Linked DNA regions of Homo sapiens: region 2 is linked to region 1. Evidence: fine-mapped expression QTL. A gene starts in region 1. The other region holds a variant in brackets. All regions are shown on one strand. Distances are between the middles of the regions.

Evidence for each region. PIP is the estimated chance that this variant, and not a neighbour inherited with it, causes the effect.
Region 2: its variant is the best candidate, but not a certain one, in a credible set for the expression of NLE1 in lung (TOPMed, PIP 0.85).

What each region holds. Positions count from the first base shown.
Region 1 is chr17:35,141,013-35,144,030 of GRCh38, reverse strand. NLE1 (notchless homolog 1) reads left to right here and starts at 1,728. Exons shown (of 13, transcript NM_018096.5): 1 at 1,728-1,773; 2 at 1,909-2,052. The coding sequence starts at 1,756. RefSeq lists an enhancer at 1,420-2,297.
Region 2 is chr17:35,250,200-35,252,958 of GRCh38, reverse strand. All of the region lies in intron 1 of SLFN5 (schlafen family member 5), which reads right to left. Among named protein-coding and RNA genes, the nearest start is that of SLFN5, 8.5 kb to the right of the region's middle. The variant A/G (reference allele first, on the strand shown) is at 1,648.

The sequences.
Region 1 (3,018 bases):
GAAAGAAAATCTCATAATGTTTTAAGAAAGCTTACGAATTTGTGTTGGGCTGCATTCAAAGCCATCCTGGGCTGCATGCAGCCTGTGGCCCAGGGGTTGGACAAGCTTGAATTAGGGGAAGGGCACAATTCACTCCATAACAGTTCCAGACAGAAAAAACTGCATGGGCAAAATCACTGATGCAGGAAGAGCCATGCCTTGTAAGAACTCAGAAAAAGCCAGCAAGATTTAACCTAAAGAGAGGGGTGGCTGGACATAGCAAGGCTGAATTGACCATTATAAGGAGTGTTCTTTTTTTCCTGCATGTAAGGGAGCCGTCGCAGGGTTTGAGGGTGAAGAGCAGCAGGCCAGATTTTTGGTCTGAAAAGATAACCCTGGCTGCATCGTGGAGAATGGGTAGAAAGAGGCAGGAATGGAAATGGGGGGGCTCATCGGGAGGCTGTTGTAGCGGTCCAGGCAGGTGATGATGGTGACTCTGACCAGAGTGAGGCAGTGGAGATGGGGAGAGCAGATTCAAGCTGTGTTCATGAGGATGACTTGGCAGAGCTTGAGACTGCCTGAGCAGTGGAGGGAGAGAGAGGAGAGTTGGCAAGGGAGATCCTTCGTTTCAGGCAAAAGAGCTCAAGTTCATTGCTGTCTGCTTCAGTTCCTCAGTAATATGGGGAGAAAAGGGTTGTAAGAATTAAATGAGTTATGTGGGAAAGCACTTAGAACAATTCCTGACTTGTTGATGTCATTATCACTATTATTGCTTTACAGCATTGATGATTGTAGAAATGATTTGCTTTTGTACTCGAGTATTATTGAGTTGATCCATTTTATTTATTTATTTATTTATTTATTTATTTATTTATTTATTTATTTATTGAGACAGAGTCTTGCTCTGTCATCCAGGCTGGAGTGCAGTGGTGAGAGCTCGGCTCACTGCAACCTCTGCCTCCCAGGTTCAAGAGAATCTACCACCTCAGCCTCTCCAGTAGCTATGACCACAGGCGCATGCCACCACGGCTGGTTAATTTTTTTGTATTTTTAGTAGAGACCTGGTTTCACCATGTTGGCCAGGCTGGTCTCGAACTCCTGGACTCAAGTGATCTGCTCGCCTGGGCCTTCCAAAGCGCTGGGATTACAGGTGTCAGCCACCACGCCCAGCCTTGACTTGATCCATTTTTAAAAGGATACTAATTTCTAGGCTAGGCGTGGTGGCTCACACCTGTAATCCCAGCACTTTGGGACACTGAGGCTGGGGAGTGGGGGACTTGCTGCTTGAGTTCAGGAGTTTGAGACCAGCCTGGGCAACATAGTGAGACCTCGTCTCTACAAAAAATGAGAAAAAAATAACCGGGCAGGGTGTCATGTGCCTGTAGTCCAGGCTACTCTGAGGCTGAGGTGGGAGGATCGCTGTGCCAGAAAGTTCGAGACTGCAGTGAGCCGTGGTGGCACCACTGCCCTCCAGTCTGGGCGACGGAGTGAAACTCTGTCTCAAAATGAAATTAAATTAAAATGGGGCAAGAATCCCTGTTGTGAAGAGTCAAAAGTTTACTGTGTCCTCTAAGACCCTGGCGAAAAATAAATGTGAAGGCTGTTGAGGGGCGGGAGGAGCACCAGGTAAGCCCATTTCTAATCCCTGAGGCCGTGCGCAGCGGGACGCTTCTCCTCCCCAACAGCAGAGGGCGATGTGGCCGGCGGCGACCCCGCCCGACCACGGAGACGGCGCTCTGTCTGCCGGGCTCTTTCTCCTCCACGTGGGGACGCAGGATGGCGGCAGCAGTGCCGGTGGGTGTGCGTGGATGGGGGCGGGGGGCGTCGCCGCGGGGCGCTAGGGCCCGGGTCCCTGAGGCCTGAGAGAGGCGAAGTGGGGCCCTTCTGGGCGGGCGACCAGACTGACTCCCGCCCCACTTGCTCGCGCAGGACGAGGCGGTGGCGCGCGATGTGCAGCGGTTGCTAGTGCAGTTCCAGGATGAGGGCGGGCAGCTGCTGGGTTCCCCGTTCGACGTGCCCGTGGACATCACCCCGGACAGGCTGCAGCTCGTGTGCAACGCGCTACTGGCCCAGGTAAGTGGCTGGCCAGGGCGGCCTCGCATCTCCACCCCCGGGCGGATGCGGTGGGGGAATCATATTACCGAGGGTCTGCGGTTCATGGTCCCCCGCTAACGGACTGTGGTGACCCACCTGGCGTGAGCTCCCACCTATGTCAGAGATGGAATCAGTGGCATAGCGCTTTACACGCCAACCAAAGGGGTCCACCTGCGGAGAGGGGCCTAGCTTTGAACGCACCGGATGCTGTATTTCATTGATTCTTTGTCACAGTCCCCCAGTCTGGGACACGTTAATATCCCCATTTTACAGCGTGGCCCGGAGGGACTCAGTATTTTGCACGATGCTATGTAGTAGGTAGCAGATTTGGAATTGGAACCCAAAACTATCCGAATACCCATGCTTTTATTTATTTATTTATTTACCTTTTTTTTTTTTTTTTTTGAGACGGAGTCTCACTTTGTCGCCAGGCTGGCAAGCTGGAGTGTAGTGGCGTGATCTCTGCTCACTGCAATCTCTGCCTCCCAGGTTCAAGCGATTCTCCTGCCTCAGCCTCCCGAGTAGCTGGGACTACAGGCGCGCGCCACCACACCCAGCTAATTTTTGTATTTTTAGTGGGGACTGGGTTTCACCACGTTGGCCAGGATGGTCTCGATCTCTTGACCTCGTGATCCTCCCGCCTTGGCCTCCAAAGTGCTGGGGATTACTGGCGTGAGCCACCGCACCCGGCCTTTGCTTTTAACCTTTAAGCCAGTGTGTTTACTGAAGAGCTGCCCTGGGGACAGGGGAGGTCCTTAAAATTGCAGTTCCTGGACCCCATCCCAGCCTTACTAAACCAAACTCTGGGATGAAGCAGAAAGTCTACATTTTTTAACAGGCGTTTTGGGAGCTTTTTACACAAATATAGTGTAGTGTGGTAGTTTGGGAAACACTGCATAATGCTATATGCTAATCCTATCTTGGACGTAAAGAACCTGAATTAAT
Region 2 (2,759 bases), 110 kb before region 1:
GGTGGGAGGGAGAAAGGAGAAAATAAGCATGCTGTTTAGAAATACAGAAACACGTGCCAGAAGAAAAAGCCCGAGAGACAAGAGGCTCCTGGCAAGCAGAAGTGGGAGAGGCTGAGGCCATTGGTTTCCTTACTGTGTCTAAGGAACTATGATTTTCAAAACTACATTCATGAGACTTTCACTTCCAGTCAGAATAAAGTACTAGGGACTAGGCTACTCTCCTGTCTGAAACAACTAAAACATTTTTGAAGAAAATTTGATGAACACTAGAAAAAATCAAGATCTAAAATCTAAGATGTTACACAAACCTTAAGCACAAGAAATGTGAAAAAAAAAAATACTGAGGAACATCATAATTAAATTGTTCAAAACCAGTGATACAGAAAAAAATCTTAAAAGCATCCAGAGGAAAAAGGCACATTATCTATAGAGGAACAAAAGATGACATTAGAATTTTTCCAGGATTATGTTGTTGACAGGCGACACATAACCTGAAAATATCCTCAGCTGTCCTTTTTGGTTTTTGTTTTTTTAGAGACAGGGCTTTTCACTCTGTCACCCAGGCTGGAGTGCAGTCATGGCTCACTATAGCCTTGAACTCTTAGGCTCAAGCTATCCTCCTGCCTTAGCCTCCCAAGTAGCTAGGACTACAAGAACGCGCCACAATGCACAGCTAATTTTTTAAATTTTTTGTACAGATAGGGTCTTACAAGATTGCCTAGGCTGGTCTCAAACTCATAACCTCAAGCAATCCTCCTGCCTCAGCCTCTTAAAGTGCTGGGATTACAGGTATGAGCCACCATGCCCCACCGCTCAGCTGTCTTTTTAGTTTTCCCACGGATGTGGATTTAAGATAGTGACCAATTTGTCTATATTATAATGAGTAATTTCATGGAGAAATTTAGCTAATATCCATTTTAAATAATTTGGTGCCAGCAAGTGGCCATTTTGAGAGCACCAGAGATTATGAGAGTAAAGATTCAACCAGATTTTTTCATGGGTGGATCACCTGGGGGCAGGAGTTTGAGACCAGCCTGGCCAACATGGTGAAACCCTGTTTCTACTAAAATTACAAAAATTAGCAGGGCGTGGTGGTGTGTGCCTGTAATCCCAGCTACTCGGGAGGTTGAGGCAGGAGAATCGCTTGAACCTAGGAGGCAGAAGTTGCAGTGAGCCGAAATCATGCCATTGCACTCCAGCGTGGGCGACAGAACAAGACTCTGTCTTTAAAAAAAAAAAAAAAAAAAAAAAAAAAGTCCGGGCGCCATGGCTCATGCCTGTAATCCCAGCACTTTGGGAGGCCGAGGCTGGCAGATCACGAGGTCAGAGATTGAGACCATCCTGGCTAACACGGTGAAACCCCGTCTCTACTAAAAATACAAAAAATTAACCTGGCGTGGTGGCGGGTGCCTGTAGTCCCAGCTACTCGGGAGGTTGAGGCAGGAGAATGGCGTGAACCCGGGAGGCGGAGCTTGCAGTGAGCCGAGATCGCGCCACTGCACTCCAGCCTGGGTGACAGAGCGAGACTCCGTCTCAAAAAACAAAAAAACAAACAAAAAAAAACCCCAAATTAGTAATGTTTGTGTTGCATGAGAAACCATGAGGTCAGGCGGGGAATGAGCCTAGAGCTAGTTTGGCAGAAGCATC[A/G]TCAAGTTTTGCAGTGACAGCTAATGCCCTAAACCAATAGAAATAAGCCTTTTAAACAGGTCAAGAGTGAGGCTACAGCAAATAATGGGGTTTTCATGGTTTCCATGAAGTTGAAGGCCCAAGGGCTTCTCTACATCGCTCTCGCACAAATAGACAAAATGGCTTTCTACAGTTGGGGTGCTTTGGGAAGGAGGCTGTTGAAGAACTGATTTCAGGTTCCAGGAGGTCTTTATGTTTGGACTTTCAAAGGAGAGAATCCCTCACTGAAGACAGTCAATCCATAAAGAGGTGCTCCAATTTCAGAAAACTTTGGCACCTATTGTTTGCAATATCCAGTTAACCTAGAAATCCTCTCATCTGTCATTTTGTGAGGGATTTACAATAACTTCGGATAATCTTTATCAGGAGAGAATATTTATCCCTCCTTAGAGAGGTTTACTTCAAATAATGAATTGTGTTTTGGTAAAATTGTAATTTAGCCTTAAAAATTTTATGTCCCTTCTCTACTAAGGCTGAGAGCAAGAAAATGGAATCCTTTTAACAGGCTTCCTTGTTCTCTGAACAAAGTAGGAGATCATTTTTATATTGTATCAGAACTGAATCACAAGGTCACAAGGGAAATTTATGTCTTTTAACTCTTTTTTTTTTTTTTTGAGATGAGTCTTGCTCTGTCGCCCAGGCTGGAGTGCAGTGGCGCGACCTCGGCTCACTGCAAGCTCCGCCTCCCGGGTTCACGCCATTCTCCTGCCTCAGCCTCCCGAGTAGCTGGGACTACAGGCGCCCGCCACCACGCCTGGCTAATTTTTGATATTTTTTTTTAGTAGAGACCGGGTTTCACCGTTTTAGCCAGGATGGTCTTGATCTGACCTCGTGATCCGCCCGCCTCGGCCTCCCAAAGTGCTGGGATTACAGGCGTGAGCCACCGCGCCCAGCCATCTTTTAACTCTTACTTGAGCATCTGGACAAAAACAGGGGCTTCAATGAATCTCTGGAGTATGACTGTCCAGTTATACCATTGTCCTTCCCAAGGCAAAGGCAGAAAAGTATTGACTGTCTTTGTCTAAAGGTGCACTGAAAAAGGCAGAGAAAATTTCTACTACAGTAAAGCAAGT